Linked DNA regions of Homo sapiens: all the other regions are reported to be linked to region 3. Evidence: microRNA targets listed by miRTarBase, many of them from high-throughput screens and not tested one by one. Region 3 holds a microRNA gene; each other region holds the end of a gene's coding sequence.
The links. The annotated mature microRNA hsa-miR-1302 reads UUGGGACAUACUUAUGCUAAA and lies in region 3 at 3,122-3,142, shown strand. An mRNA with a match to its seed (bases 2 to 7 or 8) in the 3' UTR can be bound and repressed. Matches are read on the target gene's strand: a 7mer-m8 pairs with bases 2 to 8, a 7mer-A1 pairs with bases 2 to 7 and ends in A, and an 8mer does both.

Region 1: miRTarBase lists APOLD1 as a target of hsa-miR-1302. Seed matches in the 3' UTR shown: 7mer-m8 at 2,815-2,821.
Region 2: miRTarBase lists STARD8 as a target of hsa-miR-1302. Seed matches in the 3' UTR shown: 7mer-m8 at 1,722-1,728 and 7mer-A1 at 1,826-1,832.
Region 4: the mRNA of SIGLEC10 is a reported target of hsa-miR-1302. Seed matches in the 3' UTR shown: 8mer at 3,202-3,209.
Region 5: the mRNA of SYNC is a reported target of hsa-miR-1302. Seed matches in the 3' UTR shown: 7mer-A1 at 1,995-2,001.
Region 6: the mRNA of SP140L is a reported target of hsa-miR-1302. The part of its 3' UTR that is shown has no 7-base or 8-base seed match.

What each region holds. Positions count from the first base shown.
Region 1 is chr12:12,786,620-12,791,692 of GRCh38, reverse strand. It overlaps APOLD1 (apolipoprotein L domain containing 1), which reads right to left. Exons shown (of 2, transcript NM_030817.3): 2 at 227-4,784. The coding sequence ends at 4,041. Among named protein-coding and RNA genes, the nearest start is that of APOLD1, 3.5 kb to the right of the region's middle. RefSeq lists silencers at 4,508-4,617, 4,648-4,747.
Region 2 is chrX:68,723,668-68,728,740 of GRCh38, forward strand. STARD8 (StAR related lipid transfer domain containing 8) reads left to right here. Exons shown (of 15, transcript NM_001142503.3): 13 at 1-176; 14 at 278-454; 15 at 638-2,169. The coding sequence ends at 755. Among named protein-coding and RNA genes, the nearest start is that of STARD8, 79 kb to the left of the region's middle.
Region 3 is chr9:27,095-32,167 of GRCh38, forward strand. It overlaps MIR1302-9 (microRNA 1302-9), which reads left to right and starts at 3,050; the gene lies at 3,050-3,187. It overlaps WASHC1 (WASH complex subunit 1), which reads right to left and starts at 2,362. Exons shown (of 11, transcript NM_001378090.1): 1 at 2,218-2,362. MIR1302-9HG (MIR1302-9 host gene) reads left to right here and starts at 2,565. Exons shown (of 3, transcript NR_197460.1): 1 at 2,565-2,788; 2 at 3,248-3,351; 3 at 3,664-3,797.
Region 4 is chr19:51,406,973-51,412,045 of GRCh38, forward strand. SIGLEC10 (sialic acid binding Ig like lectin 10) reads right to left here. Exons shown (of 11, transcript NM_033130.5): 11 at 3,048-4,399. The coding sequence ends at 4,127. Among named protein-coding and RNA genes, the nearest start is that of SIGLEC10-AS1, 6.2 kb to the right of the region's middle. RefSeq lists enhancers at 911-960, 1,978-2,478.
Region 5 is chr1:32,677,308-32,682,380 of GRCh38, reverse strand. SYNC (syncoilin, intermediate filament protein) reads left to right here. Exons shown (of 5, transcript NM_030786.3): 5 at 521-2,475. The coding sequence ends at 531. It overlaps RBBP4 (RB binding protein 4, chromatin remodeling factor), which reads right to left. Exons shown (of 12, transcript NM_005610.3): 12 at 1-2,741. The coding sequence ends at 2,676. Among named protein-coding and RNA genes, the nearest start is that of SYNC, 23 kb to the left of the region's middle.
Region 6 is chr2:230,402,220-230,407,290 of GRCh38, reverse strand. It overlaps SP140L (SP140 nuclear body protein like), which reads right to left. Exons shown (of 19, transcript NM_138402.6): 19 at 3,559-4,493. The coding sequence ends at 4,395. Among named protein-coding and RNA genes, the nearest start is that of SP100, 11 kb to the left of the region's middle.

The DNA.
Region 1 (5,073 bases), not on the chromosome of region 3:
TTCCCAGGTTGTAATTATGTTCAAAGGTTTTGAGACTGCTGGAAGTCTGATTTCTAGGCAAAAGGGAATTCCTGTGTATGCATTGATTATTAAAAAAAAATGATTCATATAGTTTGATCTGAATATTCTAAGTGAAAATGATTAAACATCTGCCCTTTTTCAAAGTTACTAATTCATACACAAGGAAACATAGAACTAGGAAATTAATTACAGAAAGATAAAAAAATTTGAGGAATGAGCAATTTATTTCAATAAAGAGAAAGCATTAATTTTGCTACAGTGGGAAAAAATGAACTCAAGAGTTGCTACATTTAACTGTATCCCCATTTATCTCTGCACGATGTCTTTATCTCAGTGTCTCAATTCACACTAAAATATTGAATGAGAAATACACCACGTTGGCTGATTGCTTGACATGTCTGATTTAGGGAGACTTCTACAACCACTCCTCTCTTTTTTCTCCCAGTAAATACTTTTGACTTTGACACCTACCATATTGGAAATGACAGGTGCCCGAGGGCAAGTGCATCAAAGCAGTTAGGATTCGAATGCTTGCTAAGGATTATTTTTTTAATGGAGCAGTTCTATTGAATCCTGAAAATGCAGAACCCAGTGAATCTCCTTTATTGTGAAACAGAACAATTCAAATGATTGCAAGCCCCAGAACCTAACAGAGAAGCACTTAAACATTTAGAACAAACATACCTATTTTTCAAACTTTGGCATTTTTGTGAAGTACACTTATCATCTAAATACCTCTCTCCCGTCTTCTCTTTTACAACATACCATTTCAACCTGTTTGTTTAAAGAATGAAGGCCTTAAGGAAAAGCCTTATTCACATCCCCGTAAAAGAAAGAAATAAATATTTGTTTCTAGAATCAATCTAACTGAACTTGACTAAATCTTGATAGAGGCTCCAATCTTACTCACACATAAGGCGATGGATGATCTTTTGTTGTCAACAAATTCTCATTAAGATAGCTAAACAGTTAATTATAATTATTCAAATGTATTTCTTGAGTTCCTACTATGTGCAAAGTATCGTTCCAAAGTAGACACTCTTCCTTAGAAATAAAGTGGGCCACTGAAATCATAACTTCAAAAGTCTAGAACTTTTGATACACCCAAAATATGAGAGGAAAAGTTTGCTGCTGCTGTTACTGTTGCTGCTTCCAAAAGTGCCCAGTTTAATTCTAGGGAATAGCTTAGGCATTGGAAGAATATAATTTAAACTTAAGCATTAATAAAAGATGGAGTTAGGGAATGGTTGTACCTTTATGCCATAACACAACTAATAATGTGAAGTACATTCTAAAATGATTTAAAATGATTGTGAAACAAAACAATTCATCTAAAATGAATTGTTTGATCTAAAATGCTAGCATCTGGCCAGGCGAGGTGGCTCATGCCTGTAATCCCAGCACTTTGGGAAGCCAAGGTGGGCGGATCACATAAGGCCAGGAGTTCAAGACCAGCCTGGCCAACATGGCGAAACCCTGTCTCTACTAAAAATACAAAAAATTAGCCGGGTGTGCTGGTGCACATCTGTAATCCCAGCTACTCAGGAGGCTGAGGCAGAAGAATTGCTTGAACCCAGGAGTCGGAGGTTGCAGTGAGCCGAGATCAAACCACTGCAACTCCAGCCTAGGTGACAGAGTGAGACTCTGTCTCAAAAAAAAAAAAAAAATGCTAGCATCTGGGTGAAACAGTCTAGGAGATGACACCAGCTTGAAAAGAAACCAATATAAATTTCAAAATAAACCAGCATACAGACCAATTGCAATTTATAGAAAAAATAAAAATGTAGAAACATCACCTCCTCTCCCCGACCCCAGTACTGAAATTATACTTCCTCAGACATACTGCCCCATCACTGGGAAGGGTGCGGACAGATTGGGTACATTTATAGAATATTAAATAATTAAGTAACAGAGGCACCGTTTTTGCATGTATGGTCCCAAAGACTTTTCAACTTATTTTTCAACATTACAGTTGTTAAGAATGGAAATTGAAGGAATTGTACATATTTTCACTGACAGTTTCTTACAGACCCCAAAGTGAAAATGCAACACATCACCACCATAAGACAAGCGATTTTGTCTGTCACCCAGAAGACATAACTTGATAGGACATCAGGCTTGCAAGTTCTAAGTGCTTCCTTCACATACCTCTAAACTTTTTATCTTTCCTGAACTAAATAGATTCCTTTTCCAGGTCAAGTGATACCTTCTGGCAAAATACCTTCAGGATAAATATGCTTCCTCAGTTATATATCCCACAATGCAAGCTTCCATTACAAGCTTAAACTCAGCTCCTGGTCTTGCCATTCAAGACTCTCCACACTTACTTCAAAGGATCACTTAAAACACTAGAGAAAAAGAATCTCCCTGAAGGAGAGAGACAATCAAGGAAAGCAATGCTATTTCCAGCTCATGCCCTGCCTTAGAAACTCAAACTTAATCTCATCTCTTGCAAAGAGCCTCAGCAGTCTCCCATTTAGAAACTTGCTCTTATTATTTTCTAAATGTGGTGATTAAATAAAATTAAATGCAAACACTAAACAATAATTAAAAATTAAATTACAAACTTAAAATAAATAAAAAATACATGGACTGGCACTTTTCAGAGAAGGTAATAATAGACAAAGGTCAGTTTCAGGAACTTCATATTCCTTTCTGTACCAGTTTCTACAACAGGCGGGAAACACTGCCCCCTAATGGGCTTTTAGTGTTACATCCCTTGTTCATACGGTGAGACACTGCCCCAGGGTGCACGTACGCGTGCTCTCTCTCTCTCTCTCTCATTTTGGCTTCTGGGACACAGTCTGTCCTTGGTCATCTGTGAACGACTCTGAAGACCATGGAGTCCCTAGAGAAGCCGTGAGACTTCGTGAAAGCTCATCAAGGGGATTAGAAGTTAGCATTTGTTGCAGTGATTTTCAAACCTTAGTGTGCCGCAGAACCACCCAGAGAAATTGTTTAAACTCAGGTTGCTGGGCCCCACAGCCAGAGTTTCTGATTCCATAAATCAGGAGGGTTGTGTCCAAGAATTTGCCTTTCTAACAAGTTCCTGGGTGATGTTAATTTGCCATTCCAGGGACTACACTATATGAGCCAGCACCATCATGCTAGGCACTTTGGCTCATTTAATATCTCACAACAGGGTGAGATTTTATCATCTTTGTTTTACACAGTCTCAGAGAGATTAGGTGGCTACACTCACACAGTAGTGACAAAGCCTGTCTCAAGCCCAGGACTGTCTAACTCAAAACCCATCACTCTCTTCTGAACACAATGATGTCGGGAAATGAAGTTGGCAGTCGCTCCATCTATCTGGCCCTCAGCTTCATGTGAGGGAGCAGGACTTAGATGACGGCTTCACGGGCTTCCCCTCTGAGTACTTGGAGGACTGGATTGGGAGCCACTCAGGAAAGGCCTACTTCATACCCAGGCCGCATCTGGGAGTAAGTAAGCTGAGGGGAAAGGGAAGAGGAGGAGATATCAGCACCAGGGTCCTCTCTGGGTTCTGAACCATCCTACAACGTTCAGAGAAGGGCTGATTTGCTCTGGATTCTGGAGTTCTTTGTATCAGAAATTCTGGAATAGAGGCAAACGCCTTCCTCACGCACATTTTGAGGACTTCAAAGACTAGTAGGACTTGGAGAGGACCCAGAGGATGGCACTCTCTCCAGTCTCAGGCCAAGCCACCAGGGCAGGGTCAGGGACCCCGAAATAACTTTAAAACAGGAGTGCCTGCCCAGCTGTGTTTAGACAGAAAGTTTTTGATAAAGGAAAAAGAGTTTTTGGGTCACATTTTTCCACTAGGAAGACTGAAAAGTCCGTAGCACTCAAGCCCAGGCAGATGTCACAGTGATGGGAAAAGAAGGGCTTTGGGGACCTGCCCACTTCAAAAACAGTTTTTCTCATCCTTTGCCTTCGGCTCCTAACCCAGCTTGGTGTTTTCCTAAGGGAGCTACAAATTCTGGAGCATCCCATGAGGATGATTTGCTGGCCTCGGTCATTAGGGGGAAAGGATGTTCTCAGAAAAACAGCCCTGCACGCTGGTCAGCAGAGATCTTGAGGTCGTGGCCACGACTGGACTTGGTGCAGAGCTGAACCCGAGACTCCAGCTGCTCGCTGAGTTCGTCCAGAGCCCCGGTGCAGGACTCCAGGCTCTCGGCCAGTTTCTGAATCTTGGCCTTCAGCACGGCCTGGCTAACCTTGGTGTCCCCCTCCGCCCGCCTGGGGATGAGGAAGCCACGTGAGCCAAAGAAGACGATGAAGTAGACAGAATTGTACAGGGCGATGGAGGCGTTCCTCCCGCACTGCAGCAGCTGGCGGTCCCCGCAGCCCTGCCAGCGGCAGAAAAACTCGAGGCAGCTCAGGATCTCTCGCATCTGGTCCTGGCAGGTGGCCGCGATCTCCTGCACCCTCCGCAGCTCCCGGGAGTTGCAGAAGATCAGCGAGAGATCGGACGTGATGGTGACGGCCCCTCCGGCTGTGGCCACCCCCAGCCCCACGGCCGACACCAGCAGCGAGGTCCCCAGGGTGACCGGGCTGAGCGAGAGCCCCACGATGGCGGCGAGGGCGCCCGTTGCGCTCAGCGAGCTGCCGGCCACGTTGGCTACGAGGGAGCGCCTGCGCAGGCGCTCCAGGCGCCGGGCCACCTCGCGCAGGCGCAGCACCTGGCCGTGCAGCCGGCCTCGGCGGTCCAGCAGCAGTCCCTGGAAGCGCCGCAGCGCGTCGGGCCCATGCGGCTCCCGGGCCGCCGGCCTCTCCATTCCCTGCGGGGACATAGACACGCGGTCAGCCTGGAGTCTCCGTGCCAGCCGCCGCTCCCGCCCTGCTGCCCGGACGCCAGCGGGAACTTGGCACGAGTTCAGCGGAGCAGCCACTGCCACGCTAGGGGAACGGGTCTGTTTCCAGTGGATCATGAGACGAGTTCTCAAAGACCTGTTCTGGAATCCGGGGGGAGCCACACAAGTTCTCAGGACCTTATCTCTGCATATGGAAATAGGAATAATGCTATCTTCTGCTTCTCTCCCAGGGAACGTTAACGATGGGCTTCATCAG
Region 2 (5,073 bases), not on the chromosome of region 3:
GAGGTGGCAGCCCCCCCAGCTGTGGTGCTGCATCGTGTTCTCCGGGAGCGGGCCCTCTGGGATGAGGATCTGCTGCGGGCCCAGGTGCTGGAAGCCCTGATGCCGGGTGTGGAGCTGTACCACTATGTCACCGACAGCATGGCACCCCATCCCTGCCGCGACTTTGTGGTGCTTCGGTGAGGGGCTGCAGCTGCTACCCTTCTGTGCTTGGGGGGCCGGAGAAGTGGGGTGGAAACCAGCACTAGGAATCTGAGCCTACGTGTCCCTTCTCCAATAGGATGTGGCGCTCTGACCTGCCTCGTGGGGGTTGCCTGCTTGTCTCCCAGTCCCTGGATCCGGAACAACCTGTGCCAGAGTCGGGTGTGCGAGCCCTCATGCTCACATCCCAGTACCTCATGGAGCCTTGCGGCTTGGGCCGCTCTCGGCTCACACACATCTGCCGGGCTGACCTCAGGTATCAGGCCTGGGACAGCCTGCTCGACCCCCTTGGCCTTGACCCCCTCCCCTGCCTCTGCCCCTACTTTCTGCCCCATGCTATTGATCCCTGGGGCTGGGGACAAGTCCTTTCTTCCTTCTCCCTGGTGAGGGCTCTGGGGAAAAATCCATTGCTCATGCCTGGTTTCTTCTGCTTCCCTAGGGGCCGTTCTCCTGACTGGTACAACAAAGTCTTTGGACACCTGTGTGCCATGGAAGTGGCAAAGATCCGGGACTCCTTCCCCACCCTGCAGGCAGCGGGCCCTGAGACAAAGCTGTGAGCCTTGGGCTGGTCCCAGGGTGGCACCACCCAGGCCCCCTGGGCACCAAGGGAGCGAGGGGGAATAAGAGCAGGGCAGCCCCCTGGGTGCCGCTGTCAGGAGCAGAGCCAGGCCCAGGTGGCTCCAGCTGCCTGTCCTGTCCCCTTTCCTAAAGCTCCTCTGCACATAGAGGGGAGAAAAAGAGAATTTAGGCAACTCCACTCCCCCTTCACCCCCAACCCTGTATTCTACTCTCCCGAAAAGAGAAGAGAATCGCATGAGTAGCAAGACTGCTGCCACCAGCCACCTGCTTGTGAGGCCGCCACTTGGCATGAAGCCTCCACAGCTCCCCGCCTGCAGGGGCAAAGAGGTCGACAGCAATGTGTGATCCCAGCTCTCTGCCAGACTGAGAGGGCAAGCCGTCTTGTTTGCTGCAAGGATGCTTTTGAGGTTGGACAGGAGGTTCTGGTCCTGCCTTTGGGGCCAACGCTGGCTCTGAAGTGTCTTTTTCAGAGGAATTGGACTGGAGTGAATGGGCACAGGGGTGGAGCGCAGGGCAGCCCCAGTCACCACGAGCTGTTTCATTTGTGTAAATACGATGCTGAATTTTATGAGGCTGAGTTAAGAGTGGGCACTGACGGGCCCCTAATATGTGACATGACGATTTGGCATAGATAGGGATGTGAGAGTGGAGTACCTTCCTTTCTCAAGTCTCGAGATGCCAGTGAAACCAGTATTCCCTGACTTGGGTTTCACACTTTATCGACCACCCCATGGGGTCCTGTGTAGCCTTTGGCCACGCACTGACACTGCCCAGGCCAAGCAAAAGCAGAGTGTGGTTAAGAGACAAGGGTCTATGTCATCATCCCTTTTGCTTATGGTAGTGGGCTAACATAACAGCCCCTTTCTCAAGCAGAGACCTGGCCCCTGGGCCAGCCAGATGGAAGGGCCTATCTTAGCCAGCTGGAGCTTAAGCCAAACCTGTTCTGTCCCACTGGCCAGCCATCTTTGCTCACATGGAAATTCAAATGCCATTCAAAGGCCACTGGTGCTTTATTTTTCTATCTGCTGAGTAAACTGAAATGAGATGGGTCCCAACCACCACTGTAATTTTCAAGCCTATTTTATTTGTACCTGTAAATACTGTACAGCTAATATATATATATATATATATATATGTGTGTGTGTGTGTGTGTGTATATGTGTTTATAGAGATACACACACATATATATGTGTGTATATATATACACATACATATATATACACACACGCATTTGCACAGACACACACATATATCAATTCTCATGAGTGTATTATAATCTCTGGTGGGGGCAAGTGTCTGGAAGGCCTGAGGGGCACTTCAGATGAGAATGGAGAGGTAGGGAGCCAGGTGCAGCAGGATCCCTCAAATCAATAAAGCATTACCAGAGATGCACTTTAACTGTGTGGCTGTCTTTGCTGACAATGGGCTAGGGACTGGGGACTGGGGTTGTGACTGAGGCTTCAGTGTTAGGGCTCAGAGCATTAAGCATTCACCCCACCCTCTGCTGAGTCCTAGCTTACCGGCAGCAGGACTTGGGTGAGTCCACAAGAGGAATGGGGAGGGCCTCAGCTCTTCTCTTTGGAGAGGGATTTGCAGCCAGACATGGTGGTGGGGGGGTGGGGCAGAGAAGGGGTGGAAAGTTAGCCGGAACTTGGGCAGAAGCTGCAAACCCCATCTCATGACCTGGCCACAAGCATGACCTCAGGCATCCTAGGGAGAGGTGAGCCTGGCTAAGCGGCCATTCCTTCCCCTTCTAAACAGCTTGAATGAAGAGTGAAGTCCCAGCCCCAGGAGGCTTAGGGGGCCCTGTGCCACCTGTAAGCCAACCTAAGAGGTCGGAGTGCCTTAAGGCAGCCTCTGGTCTGGCTCCAGTGACCAGCAAAGCCCAGGGGGCTAGAGAGACCCTCTCATCTTGACTTCCCCGAAGGAAGGGGCTTTCCTCTATCATGTTATATGGCCATAAAATTCCCAGGCTCCGAAGAGCAGCTAGAGAGAAAGTCCAGGCTTTGGACGTTTGCATCCCTGAAGTGCTGTCAGTAGCCTGGGCAGGGAAGCCCTGCTCTCTGGGTACCTCAACCTCCTCATGGGTCAAACGAGGCCAGTCATACCTCTCCACAAGCCTGTCTCAGTAAGTGTTCAGGTTGCACCACCCAAGTCTGCACTCCGACCCGGCCTGAACAGTGAGGTGCCTGTCCAGTCCCGCTGCTCTATCACCTCCTTCCATTCTCTCTTGGGTTCAGTTGTCCCTACATGCCTTGGCCTTTCTTCACTGCTGTCACCTAGGGGTCTTGGCTAGCCCTGGAAGTGAGTGAGGTAGAGCAGAGGACCCAGTCAGCCCCTTGCCTTTGGGAAAACTAAATGGAGGTGCCTTGTGTGTGAGTATGGGCTGGGAGATCACTCTGGTGGTGCTGGGCTTAAGGGACACCAGTGTGATTTTCTGGCCAGTAGTTCTTAAGGAAGGCATTGGGGCTTTCTGGCCCAAGCACTGCCCACCTTCTTTTGGAAGGAGGTTGGTGGTAGGGTACAGAGGATGGGACTCAGCACTCAGATGATGGTTGCTAGGAGATGGATAAAGAGGAGGGAGGCTCTTGGAAGGGCCAGAGAGTTCCCCCAACCTTGCAGCTCTGGACTCTGCTACCCTGACCCAGTAGCCCAGTGTCTGGCATTATGGAAGAGGTAGCTCCAAGTAGGAGAGCTTCTGTTGGGCCTTAACATCATCCTGTGTGAAGCAGAGCTCCCATCCCTCATCTCTGCCTACTCTACTGTGCCTCTAGATGTAGGAATGAGTTTCATGATGAGGTTGCCCAGGCCTCTCATTCCCACCCACAAAGCAAGCACCACCCCTGGCCATTTCTAGCCCTGAGTCTTGTACCTCTGCTCACCCCAAGTAGGCTTCATTTCCCTGGTGCCAGAGAACATGCCTTCAAATTCCCAGCCCTGCTGCCCATAGTCTACTCTTGTGCTTTCCCTCACCCACTGCCTCAAAGAAGCCAGGCTGCAGGGGAATCCTGCATAGAAATCTAACAATCTGCCTGTGAGCTTTGATTATTGTTTCCTAGTCTCCAGTGCCCTGTTGCCAGAGTGGCTGAGGGTAGATGGTGGTCAGACCCAGGCTCAAATCTAGCTATATCATTTCCTGGCTGTGTGACCTTAAGTGGCACATTTAACATTTCTGATTTCCCTCTCAGAAAATAAGGGTAAGAATCATTTATATCTTGTAAGGTTGTTGTCAAGGTTAAATGAGCCAATAGTTGTGAACGTGGTTGCAGGTTGCACAGTGCCTTGCACATAGCAGACATCAAAATATGGCAGCCCCCCGCCTGCCCCATGTCTTTCCTGCCAGTGAGACTCCATAGGGAGAACTTGGTCCTCTCATCTGGGATCTCCAGCTCCAAGATAGTGAGGAGTGGGTGGGTTCTTCTCCCATCAGGACAAAGATGAGCAGCCAGCATCTGCCCATTGTCAGTGAAGACAATGAAGAAGCATGTTGCAATGGAGACTTCATGGGGGGATGGCACCATGCAAGTGGGCCCCAGTGGTGTGGATGGAGCAGAACATACTGGTATAGGCAAAGATGATGGCAATGACAGCCAGGAGCTTTACATCTATTCGTAACAAAGCTTCCGAGTTCCTTGCTCAAGGCCTGGGGGGGTGGGGGGCAGTGATGAAAAAAAGCCCAGGGCAGTCTGGCATGGAGATAACACAGGGGATAGGGCTGGGGCTATGGAGATCCAGGGAACTTCAATAGCTTATGGCCCTCACCCAGTGATGGAGAGGAGTCAGCAATCAGGGCCATCAACAGGGCAGGCAAACAGTAGAACTCAGAGACGGGCACGGGGACTCCATTGCATGAAGCTGCAGTCAATAGGGAAAAATGTCTGAGAAAGTGGCTTGGGGCTGGCAACCAATGCAATGCTTTCTGGGGAGAAAATCACTCGTGAGCCAGTTGGTAGCAGGGTCTGAATATTAGCTACCCACCAGGTGCCAAGGAGGGAATCAGAGCAACACTTTCCACTTCATCAAGGGCCAGATAAACTGGTCAGGAAGCTGGCAGCTTGGCCCCTGCCCATTATGTCCCCATCTTCACTCAAGAAACTGGTAGAGTGGAATAGCCCCGGGCAGCTGAACTTGCACGTGCATCAAGCTGGAGAGGAAAGCAGATGCCATTGTTGCCATGGCAGTTGCCCAAGGGGCCACAGCACCAATGGAACAGAATAGAGAATGCAGAAACAAATCCACACACCTACAGTGAACTCATTTTTGACAAAGGTGCCAAGCACATACACTGGGGAAGAG
Region 3 (5,073 bases):
GAATCACTTGAACCGGGAAGGTGGAGGTTGCAGTGTGCCAAGATCGCGCCATGGCACTCCAGCCTAGGCAACGAGGGTGAACCAGGTCCAGGAAGAAGGTGCAAAGACAGCATTCCAGGTAAAAGAAACAGCTTGAACAAAAAGTGTGTAGGGGAACCGCAAGCGGTCTTGAGTGCTGAGGGTACAATCATCCTTGGGGAAGTACTAGAAGAAAGAATGATAAACAGAGGCCAGTTTGTTAAAAACACTCAAAATTAAAGCTAGGAGTTTGGACTTGTGGCAGGAATGAAATCCTTAGACCTGTGCTGTCCAATATGGTAGCCACCAGGCACATGCAGCCACTGAGCACTTGAAATGTGGATAGTCTGAATTGAGATGTGCCATAAGTGTAAAATATGCACCAAATTTCAAAGGCTAGAAAAAAAGAATGTAAAATATCTTATTATTTTATATTGATTACATGCTAAAATAACCATATTTGGGATATACTGGATTTTAAAAATATATCACTAATTTCATCTGTTTCTTTTTACTTTTAGAAATCACATATGTGACTTAAATATTTCTTTTCTTTTTCTTTCCTCTCACTCAGCGTCCTGTGATTCCAAAGAAATGAGTCTCTGCTGTTTTTGGGCAGCAGATATCCTAGAATGGACTCTGACCTAAGCATCAAAATTAATCATCATAACGTTATCATTTTATGGCCCCTTCTTCCTATATCTGGTAGCTTTTAAATGATGACCATGTAGATAATCTTTATTGTCCCTCTTTCAGCAGACGGTATTTTCTTATGCTACAGTATGACTGCTAATAATACCTACACATGTTAGAACCATTCTGACTCCTCAAGAATCTCATTTAACTCTTATTATCAGTGAATTTATCATCATCCCCTATTTTACATAAGGAAATGGGGTTAGAAAGACCAAATAACATTTTTTCAACATCAAAACACTAGCTTGAGATCAAGCCCAGACTTGGATCTGTCGTCTGAATTCCAAGCTTTTTGTTATTTATTGATATGTTTTGTTGTTTTCATGCAATAATGCAAATATTAGCCCAAACATTTTGTTAGTAGTACCAACTGTAAGTCACCTTATCTTCATACTTTGTCTTTATGTAAACCTAAATTAGATCTGTTTTTGATACTGAGGGAAAAACAAGGGAATCTAACACTAACCAGCCCGTAGTGTGTGGTCAACACTTTCGTTACTTTAGTATACATCACCCCAATTGTTTGTCTTCACCACACACTTTGGAGTTAGGTAGTAGTATCTATTTTTACAAATAAGAAAACCCAGGCACAAAGGGGTTGATTAGCAATTATCTTTTGAAAAGCCTGTAGTTGCTCATCTGAAGAAGTGACGGACCACCTCTTATTTAGTGGACAGACAGTAACTAGTTGAGAAGACAGGGGATTTTGTTGGCGGAAAAAAAATTTTATCAAAAGTCGTCTTCTATCAGGGAGTTTTATGAGAAACCCTAGCTCCTCAGTTCCACAGTGGGTAACTGTAATTCATTCTAGGTCTGCGATATTTCCTGCCTATCCATTTTGTTAACTCTTCAATGCATTCCACAAATACCTAAGTATTCTTTAATAATGGTGGGTTTTTTTTTTTTTTTGCATCTATGAAGTTTTTTCAAATTCTTTTTAAGTGACAAAACTTGTACATGTGTATCGCTCAATATTTCTAGTCGACAGCACTGCTTTCGAGAATGTAAACCGTGCACTCCCAGGAAAATGCAGACACAGCACGCCTCTTTGGGACCGCGGTTTATACTTTCGAAGTGCTCGGAGCCCTTCCTCCAGACCGTTCTCCCACACCCCGCTCCAGGGTCTCTCCCGGAGTTACAAGCCTCGCTGTAGGCCCCGGGAACCCAAAGCGGTGTCAGAGAAGTGGGGTCCCCTACGAGGGACCAGGAGCTCCGGGCGGGCAGCAGCTGCGGAAGAGCCGCGCGAGGCTTCCCAGAACCCGGCAGGGGCGGGAAGACGCAGGAGTGGGGAGGCGGAACCGGGACCCCGCAGAGCCCGGGTCCCTGCGCCCCACAAGCCTTGGCTTCCCTGCTAGGGCCGGGCAAGGCCGGGTGCAGGGCGCGGCTCCAGGGAGGAAGCTCCGGGGCGAGCCCAAGACGCCTCCCCGAGCGCGGCTCCAGGACCCCGTCGACCCGGAGCGCTGTCCTGTCGGGCCGAGTCGCGGGCCTGGGCACGGAACTCACGCTCACTCCGAGCTCCCGACGTGCACACGGCTCCCATCCGTTGTCTTCCGAGCGTCAGGCCGCCCCTACCCGTGCTTTCTGCTCTGCAGACCCTCTTCCTAGACCTCCGTCCTTTGTCCCATCGCTGCCTTCCCCTCAAGCTCAGGGCCAAGCTGTCCGCCAACCTCGGCTCCTCCGGGCAGCCCTCGCCCGGGGTGCGCCCCGGGGCAGGACCCCCAGCCCACGCCCAGGGCCCGCCCCTGCCCTCCAGCCCTACGCCTTGACCCGCTTTCCTGCGTCTCTCAGCCTACCTGACCTTGTCTTTACCTCTGTGGGCAGCTCCCTTGTGATCTGCTTAGTTCCCACCCCCCTTTAAGAATTCAATAGAGAAGCCAGACGCAAAACTACAGATATCGTATGAGTCCAGTTTTGTGAAGTGCCTAGAATAGTCAAAATTCACAGAGACAGAAGCAGTGGTCGCCAGGAATGGGGAAGCAAGGCGGAGTTGGGCAGCTCGTGTTCAATGGGTAGAGTTTCAGGCTGGGGTGATGGAAGGGTGCTGGAAATGAGTGGTAGTGATGGCGGCACAACGGTGTGAATCTACTTAATCCCACTGAACTGTATGCTGAAAAATGGTTTAGACGGTGAATTTTAGGTTATGTATGTTTTACCACAATTTTTAAAAAGCTAGTGAAAAGCTGGTAAAAAGAAAGAAAAGAGGCTTTTTTAAAAAGTTAAATATATAAAAAGAGCATCATCAGTCCAAAGTCCAGCAGTTGTCCCTCCTGGAATCCGTTGGCTTGCCTCCGGCATTTTTGGCCCTTGCCTTTTAGGGTTGCCAGATTAAAAGACAGGATGCCCAGCTAGTTTGAATTTTAGATAAACAACGAATAATTTCGTAGCATAAATATGTCCCAAGCTTAGTTTGGGACATACTTATGCTAAAAAACATTATTGGTTGTTTATCTGAGATTCAGAATTAAGCATTTTATATTTTATTTGCTGCCTCTGGCCACCCTACTCTCTTCCTAACACTCTCTCCCTCTCCCAGTTTTGTCCGCCTTCCCTGCCTCCTCTTCTGGGGGAGTTAGATCGAGTTGTAACAAGAACATGCCACTGTCTCGCTGGCTGCAGCGTGTGGTCCCCTTACCAGAGGTAAAGAAGAGATGGATCTCCACTCATGTTGTAGACAGAATGTTTATGTCCTCTCCAAATGCTTATGTTGAAACCCTAACCCCTAATGTGATGGTATGTGGAGATGGGCCTTTGGTAGGTAATTACGGTTAGATGAGGTCATGGGGTGGGGCCCTCATTATAGATCTGGTAAGAAAAGAGAGCATTGTCTCTGTGTCTCCCTCTCTCTCTCTCTCTCTCTCTCTCTCTCATTTCTCTCTATCTCATTTCTCTCTCTCTCTCTATCTCATTTTTCTCTCTCTCTCTTTCTCTCCTCTGTCTTTTCCCACCAAGTGAGGATGCGAAGAGAAGGTGGCTGTCTGCAAACCAGGAAGAGAGCCCTCACCAGGAACCTGTCCAGCTGCCACCTTGAACTTGGACTTCCAAGCCTCCAGAACTGTGAGGGATAAATGTATGATTTTAAAGTCGCCCAGTGTGTGGTATTTTGTTTTGACTAATACAACCTGAAAACATTTTCCCCTCACTCCACCTGAGCAATATCTGAGTGGCTTAAGGTACTCAGGACACAACAAAGGAGAAATGTCCCATGCACAACGTGCACCCATGCCTGGGTAAAGCAGCCTGGCACAGAGGGAAGCACACAGGCTCAGGGATCTGCTATTCATTCTTTGTGTGACCCTGGGCAAGCCATGAATGGAGCTTCAGTCACCCCATTTGTAATGGGATTTAATTGTGCTTGCCCTGCCTCCTTTTGAGGGCTGTAGAGAAAAGATGTCAAAGTATTTTGTAATCTGGCTGGGCGTGGTGGCTCATGCCTGTAATCCTAGCACTTTGGTAGGCTGACGCGAGAGGACTGCTTGAGCCCAAGAGTTTGAGATCAGCCTGGGCAATATTGTGAGATTCCATCTCTACAAAAATAAAATAAAATAGCCAGTCATGGTGTCACACACCTGTAGTCCCAGCTACATGGGAGGCTGAGGCGGGAGGATCACTTGAGCTTGGGAGATCGAGGCTGCAGTGAGCTATGATTGTACCACTGCACTCCAGGCTGGGCGACAGAGAGAGACCCTGTCTCAGAAAAAAAAAAAAAAGTACTTTGTAATCTGTAAGGTTTATTTCAACACACACAAAAAAAGTGTATATGCTCCACGATGCCTGTGAATATACACACACACCACATCATATACCAAGCCTGGCTGTGTCTTCTCACAAATGCACTGCTAGGCACCACCCCCAGTTCTAGAATCACACCAGCCAGTTCACCCTCCAGATGGTTCACCCTCAACTTCATAAAAGTTCCCTACCTAATCTACTGACAGGCTCATCCCCGACCTAATTTTAAAGATTTCCTAGGAGCTGCAATGGGAATCCTGGACCTCAGCCTGGACAAAGAACAGCTGCAGGTCATTCTCATGTGTGGACACAGAAGCTCTGCCTGCCTTTGCTGGCCAGCTGGGCTGAGCGGGCCTGGGAATTAAGGCTGCAGGGTTGGTCCCAGGCAGTCTTGCTGAAGCTTGCCACATCCCCCAGCCTCCTGGATTTGCCAGGATCCAAGAGCATGGACTTTAGGAATTCCTGGTGGAGGAGTGAAGAAAATGTGACAGGGTGTCCTAAGCCCCGATCTACAGGAAGAAAACTGGAAATAAGACTGAGGACTTAGTTTAAGATGTTCCTACTCAGCCTCTAGCTTTTGTGCTACAGTTCTGGGAACAGACTCCTCTCTCCTGAAAACCACTTCCCTCC
Region 4 (5,073 bases), not on the chromosome of region 3:
AACAAAAAAACATGATTGACTCAGTGATCAGAAAACATATAACTATTTTATATTCATACTTCCTGCAGTTAATGTCCCAGTTGACTGGTTAAAAAGAATATTTGGGGGCCAGGCGCAGTGGCTCATGCCTGTAATCCCAGCACTTTGGGAGGCCGAGGCGGGCGGATAACAAGGTCAGGAGATCAAGACCATCCTGGCTAACACAGTGAGACCCCGTCTCTACTAAAAATACAAAAAATTAGCTGGGCGCGGTGGCAGGCACCTGTAATCCCAGCTACTCGGGAGGCTGAGGCAGGAGAATGGCATGAACCCGGGAGGCGGAGCTTGCAGTGAGCCAAGATTGCACCACTGCACTCCAGCCTGGGCGACAGCGAGACTGTCTCAAAAAAAAAAAAAAAAAAAGAAAAAGAATATTTGGCAATACGGAAAGTTCCCCTTGGGTTTTCTGACTCCAAGCCTGGTGTTTTTGTTTGTTTGTTTGTTTGTTTTCATTTGCACAACATTGCCTTTCCCCAAGAGTACTGGATAACAATGCCCTCCCTCCAAGTCCCAAGTCACTATTGCAGAAGTCAGGACCTTAACACACACATTTCAAAGTTACTGACACCTAGTCAAACCTGGTGCCTTAGCAATGCAATCTTGTAATTTCCCAGGTCAAACAGATCTTCAAGGGTTGCTCTCATGGCAGAATTTGGTGGTAGAAGGAAGGAAGCAGAGTCTCAGTCTTTGTGCAGCTTGTAGGGAGTTCCCTTTTTCTCAAGCCCTTGCAGCATCCTTCCCACTCTAAGCTTAAAGGAGACTGTGTAACCAGCAGTGCTCACCCATCCTGGGCCTGAGTTTGAATCCCAGCTCTGGAGTTCAGCTGTGTGACATGCAAGACCTTGTCCCTCTCTGAAGTCCTTCTGTAAAATGAGGTGGCTGCATTGGGTGATCCCATTCCACACCATGAGTCTATAGTCCTATCATCCTGGGTATACCGACGTCTGGTGGCCAACTTTGGTCCTTGCAGCTAATTCAGGTTTTTTCTTTGTTTTTGAGACATAGTCTCGCTGTGTCACCCAGGCTAGAGTGCAGTGACGCGATCTCAGCTCACTGCAGCCTCTGCCTCCCAGGTTCAAGCGATTCTCATGCCTCAGGATCCTGAATAGCTGAGGAATACAGGCACCTGCCACCACACCTGGCTAATTTTTGTATTTTTAGTAGAGACAGGCTCTCGCTCTGTTGCTCAGACTGGTCTCGAACTCCTGAGCTCAAGTGATCCGCCTGCCTCGGCCTCACAAAGTGCTGGATTACAGGCGTGAGCCACCGTGTCCAGCTCAGTTTTTAATTTTTTATTTTTCAGTATCTGGAGTGTTTAGCACAGCCAGGAAACAAAACACACCAGAGAGGGCCACCTTGCCATGTCACCAACGATGCAATAACTACCGAAGAAAGGCCCCTTGGGTGGCTATGGAGGAGCAGAGGTCAGCAGAGGAGATGGCCAGCAAAGTGCTCTCCTTTGCTCTATTTCTTTTCTTTTGAGACGGAGTCCCACTCTATTGCCCAGGCTGGAATGCAGTGGCATGATCTCGGCTTCTGCAACCTCCATCTCCCAGGTTCAAGCAATTCTCCTGCCTCAGCCTCCCGAGGAGCTGGGATTACAGGTGCCCGCCACCACACCTGGCTAATTTTTGTATTTTTTTAGGTGAGACGGGGTTTCACCATGTTGGCCAGGCTGGTCTTGAACTCCTGACATCAGGTGATCCGCCCACCTCAGCCTCCCAAAGTGTTGGGATTACAGGCGTGAGCCACTGTGTGATTCTTAGCATGTTGTAAGTTTGTCATTGTTCCATTTCCAAAGCATTCCAACCTCCATCCCCGCATGCGTTTGCACTTCTTTAGATTTGTGGGTCTGAGAGCGCATTAGCACCCCATCCACATGCAGTCTCCTGCCCTTCCAATCCTCACCCTGAAAACCTTCCTGTAGTCACAGACCTAGTCATTTTTCCCACGGCTACTCTTGAACTCTTTATGGACCTCTGCGCTCGCTTCCTCTTCTGTGAAAACAAATGAGTTTATGTAGATTAAGATCTAGCCAACTTCTGTAAAGGATCAGATGGTAAATATTTTAGGCTTTGCAGGCTAGTGACTCAACTCTGCATGAAAATAACTGCAATGTGTAAAGGAATGAGCATGGTTGGGCACCACACTGAAATTTGAATTTCATCTCCTTCCCAGGGGCCCCAGAAGAGTCTTCTTCTTCGGACTTTTTCCCCAAGCATTTAAATGTAAAAACATTTCTAGCTTGCAGGTGGTATGAAAATAGGCAGCAGGCTGGAGGTGACTGAGGAGCCTATCTAGTCTTTTTTTTTTTTTTAAACAGAGTCTCGCTCTGTTGCACAGGCTGGAGTGCAGTGGCGCCATCTCAGCTCACTGCAACCTCGGCCTCCTGGGTTCAAGCAAATCTGCCTCAGCCTCCCGAGTAGCTGGGACTACAGTTGCGCACCACCACGCCCAGCTAATTTTTGTATTTTTAGTAGAGACGGGGTTTTACCATGTTGGCCAGGCTGGTCTCAAACTCCTGGCCTCAAGCGATCCATCAGCCTCAGCCTCCCAAAGTGCTGGGATTACAGGCGTGAGCCACTGCGCCTGGCTGTATCTAGTCATCTTTAAAGACCCTCCCATCTCTGAGAACCCATGAAACTGCGCAGTCCTCTGGACTGGAGCTGGGGTGTGTCAAAGGCAAATCTTTGCCTGCCTTCTCAGAACACCATATTCAGAGAAGGCCATTCAGGACAGATTTGTCAGGCTGTTCCGAATGCCCAGGTCTGGGATGAGATGGCCTATCCATGGAGGATTTTTATTTTTTCGAGACAGGGTCTCACTCTGTTGCTCAGGCTGGAGTGCAGTGGTGTGATCTTGGCTCACCACAGCCTCTGCTTCCTGGGTTCAAGTGATCCTCCTGCGTCTGCCTCCCAAGTAGCTGTGTTACAAGAAAGGGGTCCTGATCTAGACCCCCCAAGAGAGGGTTCTTGGATCTCACACAAGAAATAATTCAAGACGAGGCGGTAAGGTGAAAGCAAGTTTATTAAGAAAGTAAAGGAACAAAAGAATGGCTACTCCATAGACAAGAGCAGCGCCTAGAGCTGCTGGTTGCCCACTTTTATGGTTATTTCTTGCTTATTTGCTAAACAAGGGGTGGATTATTCATTCCTCCCCCTTTTGGGACATATCGGGTAACTTCCTGATGTTGCCATGGCATTTGTAAACTGTCATGGTGCTGTCAGGAGTGTAGCAGTGAGGACGACCAGAGGTCACTCTCGTGGCCAACTTGGTTTTGGTGGGATTTGGTTGGCTTCTTTACTGCAATCTGTTTTATCAGCAAAGTCTTTATGACCTGTATCTTGTACGGACCTCCTGTCTCATCCTGTGACTTAGAATGCCTCCACTGTCTGAGAATGCAGCCCAGTAGGTCTCAGCCTCATTTTATTCAGCTCCTATTCCAGATGGAGTTGCTCTGGTTTAAATGTCTGACAGCTGGGACTACAGGCACACACCACCAAGCCCAGCTATGTTTTGTATTTTTTGTAGAGATGGGGTTTCACCATGTTGCCCAGGCTGGTCTCGAACTCCTGGGCTCAAGCAATCCACCCACCTTAGCCTCCCAAAGTGCTGGGATTACAGACACCCAACCCATTTGGAGGATTTTTTTTTTGAGATGGAGTCTCGCTTTGTTGCCCAGGCTGGCGTGCAATGGTGTGATCTTGGCTCACTGCAACCTCCGTCTCCCAGGTTCAAGTGATTCTCCTGCCTCAGCTTCCCAAGTAGGTAGGATTACAGGCGCCTGCCACCATGCCCAGCTAATTTTTGTATTTTTAGTAGAGACGGGGTTTCACCAAGTTGGCCAGGCTGGTCTCGAACTCCCGACCTCAGGCGATCTGCCCACCTCAACCTCCCAAAGTGCTGGGATTACAGGCGTGAGCCACTGTGCCCTGGCCAGATGTTTTTTTAAAAGAGAGAGAAAGAGAGAGAGAGAGAGAAAGAGAGAGAGAGAGGGAGAGAAGGAAACTTTGCACTCTGTTATCTTCAACCTCTTACTCTACCTTCCTCCCTAGCCGAAGTCCCAGTCCTAAAGCCTAAGAGACCCTCATTGGAACTTGACTTCTGCATAATCCGCCTGGGTGCCCTTGGGCATCCGGGCCTCAGGCCTGGGTCTGACGCCTGGGAAGTTGAGCGTGGCATAATGGAGCTCCTCTTGGCTCTCCTGGGATTCTGGGGCTTGAGTGGATGATTTGGGTTCTGGGAAACTGGGCAACTGATACTGCTTTTTCTGGTTCTTCTTTGATTCTGGGGAGGGAGCACCTGGTGGAAGAGGGGTCCGAGGACTGTTTGGTGTGGCTTTCTGATTCCGCTTCTGAGCCTGAGGGAAGAACCACCATCCTTCATTCATTCATTCAGCAAATATTTGAGCACTTACCACGCGTCGGGCACTGATTTACAGCACAGAGTGAAACTAAGTCCCTGCCCTTGCCTTGCTGAGCTTGCATTCCATCTTGGAAGGAGGAACAGACAATAATTAGCAAAAGTACAATGACTGGTAAGTGACAAATGCCATCAAGAAATTTGAGCACCTTTAGAAGGCAGCGAAAGGGAGGGTGGGATGACTGTTTAATAGGTCATCCAGGGAATTTCAAGACCGGCCTGGCCAACATAGCGAAACCCTGTCTCTACCACAAATACAAAAATTAGCCGGGCGTGGTGACACATGCCTGTGGTCCCAGCTACTCAGGAGGCTGAGGCAGGAAAATCACTTGAACCTGAGAGGTGGAGGTTGTAGTGCGCTGAGACTGCGCCACTGCACTCCAGCCCGGACAACAGAGACAAAATCTGTTTCAAAAAAATAATTGATAGCCGGGTACGGTGGTTCACACCTGTAATCCCAGCACTTTGGGAGGCTGAGGCGGGTGGATCACCTGAGGTCAGGAGTTTGAGACCAGCCTGATCAACATGGTGAAACCCCGTCTCTACTAAAAATACAAAAATTAGGGGGGCATGGTGGTGGATGCCTGTAATCCCAGCTACTCAGGAGGCTGA
Region 5 (5,073 bases), not on the chromosome of region 3:
TGGCACGATCTTGGCTCACTGCAACTCTGCCTCCTGGGTTCAAACAATACTCCTGCCTCAGCCTGCTAAGTAGCTGGGATTACAGGCATAAGCCATCACACCCAGCCTTGAGGATTTTCTTATACTGTGTTTGAATCCACATGACTGATAATATGCTTAATGTTTGAGAAATTATAACCTTGCAATTGAGGTTAATGATCTACTAACTACCTTTGTGTTGATCAGATTGTGTACAATCTGGAAAAGACAACGACTAATCCAAAGAAATGAAACTACAGAATTTCAGGCATTGTAATTATACCTGTAAGAAGTTAACCTAGCAGAGAAAACGTTTAACTATCCCTCCCATCACCATCACCATTCATTCTATTTGACAAACAGGAGGCATCCAAATATTTGCTAGGGGAAAGTCATCCCTGATCATCCATAAATCACACTGTAACAATCTCTTCTCAACAAAGCCTGCAGTAACTAAACCTCAGAAGTTCACTGTTATAAACTTTTTCTTTCAACTTTACAGGGGCTGTTTAGAAATATATGGCCAAATCTGTAACCCGGAAACAGCAAAAAACTTCTTAGCAAAGGATCACTAAGTACCCTTTGGATGTACTCTTCCAACCAGACAAGAGTGCCAGAAACTTGGCAAGCAATTCATCCTGTGGAAGTTGCAAATACTGGCTGACCTGCTTAAAAAGATTCTAGAGTTGGCCGGAGGCAGAACATGTCAACTCTTTGCTGGATTCTATTTCATCTGCTGTTGATACTGATCTCAATGCACCAAGGAAAGGAAAGATGAGCCTCCTGTCTTCCAGCAACAACCCTCACATATGCACTGAGTGAAGGATGAATGTATGGACACATCTGGGAGTATTTTAAAGAATGTATCTTGCCTTGTGTTGACCCAAACCAAAAACATTTTTGAGGGGCACATGTGGGGTCAAAAAGATAGCCAATTTCCATTACATGGGTTTACAATTTCCATTCTTTTGTGCCACGAGTGTTAGAATTTAAATGAATACTTTTACAAAGTCTACTTTTTGTTCAAGGATATGCTGACCCATATAGTTTACTCTTAAAATTGTGTCAAGGTATTTCTCACTATACTCTAAAACAACTAGACTTGAAAAGAAACCATTTGAGATTTGAATCTAATGGTTAACGCTATTCAGATTTTCCCAAAGATCTTACCTCATGAAAGTAGTTCTGGGTCAGAATGATCTACTCAGTTAAAAAACAACAACAACAAAAAACTAAGCGATTGGGAAAAAACAGGAATTTTATCTGGTTATTGCATCTGGTGATAGAGGCCTTCAAAGCCTATTATTTCTAACCTAAGTAAAGGCCCCAGTGAAAAACATACTGGGGAAATAAAACCTCTGAGAAAAGGTTCAAGCACCTTTTCCAAATTTAAATCTTGCCTTAAATTCTCTCTACCACACTGCCTTTGACACTCTTGGAAGTCCATGTAGTTCTCTACAGATAGACTTCAAAGAAACGTTACCTTATCAAAGACTAATCTGTGCCACCTCTGATTCAGTGTTTTATGTCTTTCACTTTCCCTGGGAAGGAGTAAAGTTCTTTTCTACAGCTCTGGGACTATTACATTTAATTCTGCTCTTGATAGTCAAAGACCATGGACAACAACTGTCATCTGAAGGACTCTTCTAGAAGCCAGAGACTGGTGTTTGATGGATGTTTTATACTAAATAAAACCCATCAGCATGGGGTTATGTAGAAAAGCAATTTATTCCATTTTAAGCACTTACACAGTTAGTCATGGAGAGTAACAGGCCTGCTGGTGAAACAGGTCACCCAAAATGGAGATGGCATCAAACTAGTGGTCAAGGACTAACTCCTAAAAAAAAAAAGCAACTCTTATCAAGGATTAATTTAATTTTTAAAACAAATACAAGTTATTGATTCACTCTTCTCAACTTGACAGTCTACCTGTGGTATAACTGTCAGGTAAAAACATACATCTTTACAACTTGGTGGTCCCAAGTTAAAAAAAAAAAAAAAAAAACCAACAACAAAAAAAAAAACACCATTTCACAGACAGGAAATAAACAACATGAAAACAGCTCAAGAAATACACTAACGAGCAAAAATATATGAATATATGGGGAAAGAGGAACGTGTTGTTTTGACTTAACTGAAGAAACCAAGAGGAAACTGGTCTACGTATGAAAATGTGCATCCTGGAAAGTCAGGTGTCAAGATTTTCGAGTAGGAATCTATATGACTTGAATCTCCCCCTATTTCCTGAATAAAAGTGACATCTTTCAGTATTTATACTTCATGGCTCAGACACCTACCTCATTTGGCTCTATTCCTTACTCACTCTAGCCTTTACTTAAATGAGTCTGAAAAACTTGGGGATATAGCATAAGAAGAAAAATAATCACACATAATATTCCCCTTTCTGTAGCTACTTTAGACCTGGGTTACTAGAAAATTCCTGAAGAAAATTTCAACGTTAAGTCTGTGGCTTTGTTGAATCAAGCCCCCCTATTAATATTTAGAAAACACCCACGGTTTGGGCTAATAGCATTATCGGTGGTACCTATTATATAGAGGGATAGCTGAATAAAGTCTGTCTCAAAACCAGTGTTAAATCACTCTCAGGGTTGAGAAGAAAAAAGGGGAGTCTAAAATCACAACAAGTAAAGACATATCTAGGACCCTTGTCCTTCTGGATCCACGCTTCCTTCAGGGTCTTCATCATTATAAATGTTCTCTGCCTGCCCAAAAACAAGAAAAAGAATTTAAACATGAAGACTTCTTCTAAAACTCAAGGTTTCAACAACAGATTAGGCCAGGAAGCCAGAGAGTAAATACTTTATAGCTTTTGGGCCACACAATCTGTGTTACAACTATTCAACTCTTGGATGAAAGTATCCGGAGACAACCTATAATGGGTAATGAAATATTAATTAGCATGATCATGTTCCAATAAAAATAAGCAGCTGATCCCCAGACGCCTGATTAGGACATTCCCACAAAACTGCAGTGTGGATACTATTTGTCTTGATAGCCAACATTCTTGAGTTCTTTAACCAGGCATTATTATTTTTCTTTCCTTTTGAGATGGAGCCTTGCTCTGTCTCCCAGGCTGGAGTGCAGTGGCACCATCTCGGCTCACTGCAACCTATGCCTCCCAGGTTCAAGCAATTCTCCTGCCTCAGCCTCCAGAGTAGCTAGGATTACAGGCACATGCCACTACGCCTGGCTAATTTTTGTATTTTTAATAGAGATGGGGTTTCACCATGTTGGCCAGGCTGGTCTCGAACTCCTGATCTCAGGTGATCTGCCCACCTCGGCCTCTCAAAGTGCTAGGATTATAGGAGTAAGCCATTGTGCCCAGCCTAACCAGACATTATTAATAATAGCCAAAAAGTAAAAACAACCCAAATATCCATCAACTACTAAAATGGATACACGGTATATCCAATCCATATGATGGAATATTATTTGGCATAAAAAAGCCAGTCAGGCCAGGTGTGGTGGCTCATACCTGTAATCCCAGCACTTGGGAGGCTGAGGCAGACAGATCACTTGAGGTCATGAGTTTGAGACTAGCCTGACCAACAAGGCGAAACTGCATCTCTACTACAAATACAAAAATCAGCCATGTGTGGGGGTGCACCCCTGTGGTCCCAGCTACTTGGGAGGCTGAGGCATAAGAATTGATTGAACCTGGGAGGTGGTGGTTGTAGTGAGCCAAGATTGCACCACTGCACTCCAGCCTGGGTGGCAAAGCAAGACTGTGTGCCAAAAAAAAAAAAAAAAAAAAAAAAAAAAAAAAAAAAAAAAGCTGTCACATACTTTAGGATTTTATTTATATAAGGTGTCCAGGCCAGGTGTGGTGGCACACGCCTGTAATCCCAGCATTTTGGGAGGCCAAGGCAGGCGTATCACCTGAGGTCAGGAGTTCGAGACCAGCCTGGCCAACATGGTGAAACGCTGTCTCTACTAAAAATATAAAAATTAGCCAGGCGTGGTGACAGGCGCCTGTAATCCCAGCTATTTGGGAGGCTAAGGCAGGAGAATCGCTTGAACCCAGGAGGCGGAGGTTGCAGTGAGCCAAGATCACACCACTGCACTCCAGCCTGGGGGGCAAGACTTCGTCTAAAAAAAACAGGGGTCCAAAACAGGCAAATCCATAGCTTGGTGGCTGCCTAGGGCTGGGGGACTATGAGAAAAATAGGAAATGATGGCTAATGGGTACAGGGTTTCTTTTTCAGATGATGAAAATGTTCTCAAATTGACTGTGGTTGATGGTTGCACAACTGTAAATACACTGAAGACTGCTGAACTGCACACTTAAAACTTCCAAAACAATATGTTCCGAATCTCTATATATTGAAGAGAAAAACTGTTCTTGTATAGAATAAACTCTACTTCTACTGCTTGACAGAATACCTGTATCCAACGGCATAATCTTAAAATACAGGAACCACTTTCACAGGAGCAAAATTTACTGCTCTTAGCACCTACCATGCACATATCACTATGATAGGTACTGCAGAGGACAGGATAGTCTTACCTTCAAAGAGCTTGTGATCTGACCCCAGAGAAAAGAATACATACAATTGTGTGATGCTTTCTGACGTTACTTCTAACACCAAATGTGGGGTACCCTTTCTTAGGACACCAACTGGGTGTACAACTCAATCCTATTCTGACACTATCTGAAGTTAGCTTTGGAGAAGACTGTCCTTACTTCAGAAGCCAGTTGCAATTCCCTGGTCCCAGGCTACCTGCACACTTCTATCCCACTTGACTACAAATTTCAGGGTTCCCACTACTGCCTCCTCAGGTCTGATAATTTGATGGAATGACTCACAGAACCCAAGAAAGCTTTTTACTATTACTGTTTTTTGTTTGTTTTTTGTTTTGTTTTTTTTTTTAAATAAAGGATACAACTGAGGAACCACATGGAAGAGATGCATACGGCAAGGTGGGGAGGGGCTGCAGAGTTTCCATCAAGTCTCTGGGCATGCTACCCACCCAGTATGTCGAGTTGTTCACCAATCCAGAAGCACATCAAATTAGGAGTTTTTATAGAGTTCA
Region 6 (5,071 bases), not on the chromosome of region 3:
GGGGAAGGATGAGTAGGTTGCCCAAGGACACACCGTCAGCAAGTGGAGAAGTGCAGGAACTGGGCTTCCACTTACAGAGGCTGTGCTACTGAATGCTAGTCTGTGCTGCCCCTCAGTACAAATTACTATGCTTACCAGACCAAAAATAATCAAAGAGCCAACTGTCATCCAGTTTTGAGGATAAATGAAAGGTAAGGCACAGATGATGTAGAGCTGTATTTACTGATGTGACAATGTCCATCTTATATTGTTAAGTGAAAAACATTGATTAGCACATTTTTATTTATGAAGATGGTATACCCACTGCCTCCCCACTCCCTGCCTCCCAAACACACAACCACATTACAAAGCCTAGAATCACTTTCATCAGAATGTCAACCACGGTGATTCTCCTCACTTGGAGAGGACCACCAAGCTCTGGGTTTCTTAGTGGCAGGAGGTATGAAGTGCAACAGCTTGGAGCTTTGGAGGGGATGCTCTGACACGTTCCAGACCATTGAACCCCTGAAAGCTTACCTATATGGCATATCTCTGTATCTTTGTAACGTTTTTCTCCCACCATCTGCAGTGTTTATGACTTACTAAGTCATTCAGAATAGTCAACATTTCTCGCTTATCAGGCTCATGAACATACTGTCATCAATACAGTTGACCAATGTAATGTATTGCAGAGTGTCCAGAAAGCCTATATTGTAACACAGAGCAGGATTCACCTTGCCCTGGAGCAAGACTGTAAAGATATACTCTTGTCCAATCCTTGAGAATGTGAATTTCCTCTCAACCTACATCCTGCCGGATCCTTTAAAAGTGGCATTTCCGTATTAATAGTTGCATATCACTTGCTAAGGCTGTGCTAACCCGTTATAATAAAGATACCACGTTTGACACAGCAACTGTAATAGGGGCTACTCCTTGGTTAAGTTTTAGGAGCCATTTAGCAGCATGAACCACCAGGAGATACCAGAGGGCAGACTGCTGAATTAAAATGGAGGTGTAACTGGGGTAACAACCCCTGCCTCCTCCATGTCTTTGTAGGTGGCACTAATCTCTATCATTCCCCAAGAATGTGATATTGCTTTTAACTTACTTGTTTTCACCATGAAACTTCAGTTTCAGAGGCTTCTGCTTGGCCTTCCCTAAAACAGTCATTGTTATTTCATAGGTTAGGAAACCAGAGGTTAAGGAACCAGGTCAGCCAATTGCTATATTTTATGATGTATGTATGAATGTATATCCTGATTATACATTCAGGAAATGGGGAAATGATTGCTGGGTGGCCTGTGGATCCAGAGGGCCCATTGTGAGATGGACATTACCTCACCTCCACGTACTCTACTCTAACAGGGGCTACGAAAGGGCTTTGAGTCCTCAGGGATTAGCATCAACTGTGATATTGTACTCAACATCCCTTGAAAGATCTGTGTATTTTCCTTTCCCCGGCATGTGAGTAACTCAAAAAATTTGGCCATAGAGCCCTCCCGTGAAAACTTGAGGGAATCAGTGATGCGCACACTTACAAGGTTCTTCCTTATGAGAAACTGCCCTCATTTCCATCAGTGAGTTCTGGATTCCACTGAGAACTGGCTGAGGTTTGGAAGCTGGGCAAGGGGTCTAAGACTTTACCTTTAGATAGCTGACCTCAGCCTTCTGCTCATCTATTTTCAATCTCTTTTGATTATATGTCTAAAGCAATATGTGTCTTGCCTAGAGGAACAGCATGTCCTAAGAGCCATCTTCATGGACACCTACAGGTCAGGCCTCCCAGTTGTCACTCTAACGTTGATGCCCCTTACGGAAATTACTTTATCTTGTCCTCACAGTTAAATGCTGCCACTTGGCCCCTGTTATTCTGGAACTCTATCATTTTACTCACTACTGGGGGATCCAGTTCTATAAAACATCCCTAGCATTATTCCAGCCTGCAGGGGACAGCCACCATTGAGCTTCTTAAGGATGTGCTGCCCCCTCAACAGTGCATTCCTTCTCACCTTAGTTAGTGTCTGAGACACATTAGTAGTGTCCCCTTTGGAGGAACTCAGTCACCTGATGGATGGATTCTCCAGTTGTAGAGTGCAGAGTCATTCTAGCACACCAACTTCTCTATCCTTGGGACCCACTTTTCCAGACTCTGCCACAGTAGTTCTGGTATCTCTGCTTCCACTTGATTTAATGTGTACCATGGCTTATACTTAGTCTCTAGGAGCCACCCAGGAGTATATCAGAATCATCACCTTTGGCCCAAGCCAGGCTAGTTAAACTCTGTGGTAGAGAAGCTTGCCCCTTTGCCAATAATCGTCACTTATCTGGTTTCACATTTCACCCTTCCTGGACCAGGATCCACTCCCAGACACAATCTCCTTGCTCCTGCTGATGCACGCTGGCCAGTCCTACAGCTCCTTCGGAGGATAAATGCTCTCTTCATTTGCTGCCCTCCCCATGATTGTTCACTTTCATTGTCCTGAGCGGTCTCTATACAGTCTTCATTCTAGAAAAATCGGGAGTTGGGTGGGGGTGGTAGCTCTCTCTTCCAACAAGGGGCAGAAAGACTTTTCTGCAAACCCAGTAGGTTCAGGGGGCATCTGGAGTTCAAAGTTCTCATGTACATCTACCTAGATAGCCCCATGCTGAGTTTGAAGGCCTTGACTTTGGCATAAGAGACCATCCTGAGCTTAGAATTCAGTGTTCTCTGAAGTTCTGCGATTCATAAAATCAGGTCTGTACCAGACCTTCCTTGCTGTCTGCCTTCCAGCTCCAGGTATGAGGGTCTCTTCTCTTTAGGTTGGTAATGAATAGATCTAAGCCTGTCATTTACTCTTTTCAAGACATTAATGGCACTTAGTAATACCCACCAAAACCCATATTTCTTATAGTTACTTTTCCTCACTTCTTAAATGCCAGACAATTGTACCAGCTATTTTAGTACATAGCTGTACTAAAATAGCTTGACCTGCAGCTCATCCAATTTACTACAGGTGAAAATTTGGGCAACTGCTCAGTGATAGCACTTCTGGGACTATCCATATTCCACCCAGCATCACTGGGCTAGACAGTGATCCAACTCCAGAATCCTGTCCTCAGAGCTCGCTTCCTGGGGCCATTACTTTAGGTTGCATTCCCCAGAAGCACATTCTGGGATGAAGTCCATTAAGCAAGAGATTGATGGTGAGGGTTTGCTCAGAAGGGAGTGGGGGAAGCTCATCATGTGGGCAAAAGCTAAGCCACGATGTGGCCACAGCTGGAGACTAGCTCCAGCCTGATACCTGGGAGCACAGAGTAGCCACACACCACACCCTTGGTCCTGCTTTGAGGCAAAGGGGCCGGCCTCAGGCCACGGGGCGTCACTTCCAGGTGAAGCTGATTCCATTTAACGAAGGGTAATACTCTGGGGACTGCTGGCATCAGCAGCCACCACTCAGCAGCTGGGGATGAAAAGACCTGGTCAGAAGAGGAGATGGTGCCAGGATGCCAACCGCTTTGCAGGGGAGGGAAAAATGGCTTCCCTCTACCCTGCTAGGTTCTTTGGCTGAGCTACGAATGAATTAAATTGACATAAGTAGATTGACAGGAGGAAAAAAAATTTAATAATATATGTTTGCACAGGAGTTCCACGAAATATGAGACTCCAAGAAGGGTCAGATGATTGACACTCATACACCATCGTGAGCTATCGAAAAGAACGGCAGTTTGGGAGTTCTGCAGGGAGTTGACCACAGAAGTGGGAGAGTGAAGGGAAGAAGTGTGTCGTGAATAAAGCTTGGCTGGTTTTCAGATAAAAGGTCTTGCGAGTGGCCAGGTGTGGTGGCTCACTCCTGTCACGTCCCAGCACTTTGGGAGGCCAAGGCGGGCGGCTCATGAGGTCAGGAGTTCGAGACCAGCCTGGCCAACATAGTGAAACCCCGTCTCTACTAAAAATGCAAAAAATTAGCTGGGCATGGTGGCAGGCACTGTAATCCCAGCTACTTGGGAGGCTGAGACAGGAGAATCACTTGAATCCGGGAGGCAGAGGTTGCAGTGAGCTGAGATCGCGCCATTGCATTCCAATCCCGGGTGACTGTGTGAGACTCCATCTCAAAAAAAAAACGGAGGAAAAAGGTCTTGTGAGTAATAAATGTTGTCTGGAGCAGACCTCAGGAGAAGAGGTGAGAGTCTGTCTGTGCTGGTATCACCTCCAATCTCCTTCCCTGTGATCTCAGTTCCTCTTCCCTGGTTGATGAGATTCTTGGGGATGGGATTCATGATGATCAAATTTCTTTTGAGGATTTGTTTTTGGGCAGATGAGGGAGGCTCAGAGAAAAGCCTCTCCCTGCATGTGCTATTTCCCAAGTGCTCTCAGTTTGAAGTCAGTGGCAACCAGTAGCATATTTCCTGAAGGCCTTCAGCATCCACTAAACCAGTCAACTGTTCCCATTTGTTTCCTGAATAGCAAACACTTCCTTGAAATCCTTCTCAAATTCAGCCTCCAGTCTAAGTCCCATTTGGCCAAAATCCTTATACTGGAAAAAAGTAATAAAGACAAAAACGATGTTCCTTATCATTAGTGTCATTAGATACCTTTCAACTGAGAATGATCAGGACTCTTGTCTTTAAAAAATAAAAACTGTAAGTTGACAATTTATAATGGTATGTATTTTGGAGTACAAAGCAGTGTTGTGATTTATGACTGCTATGTGGAATAATTAAATCAAACTAATTAACATATTCATCATCTCAAAGAGCCATCATTTTTTGTGGTGAGAACATTTGATATTTACTCTCTTAACAATGTTGAAGTGTGAAATACACTATTATTAAGTAGGACTCTTATCTTAAACACCCTAAGTAACATTAACCAGATTAAACTTGAAAACTCATGCAGCTAAGAGTAACTTCCGTTTCTCACCAGCATGATCCTTTCTTATTAACAGGGCAGAAAAGTGAAATCATTTCCACAGTTGGGATTATTACTTTTTTGCCTTTGGTTGCTTATTTCAGTGGGTTAGAAAAGCAATCTAGGTTCTTTCAACAATTCAGATAGTGGAAGGGTATAAGGTAAGATCACTGATCTGTTCCTTTCTCTGTCACTTCTACTCCT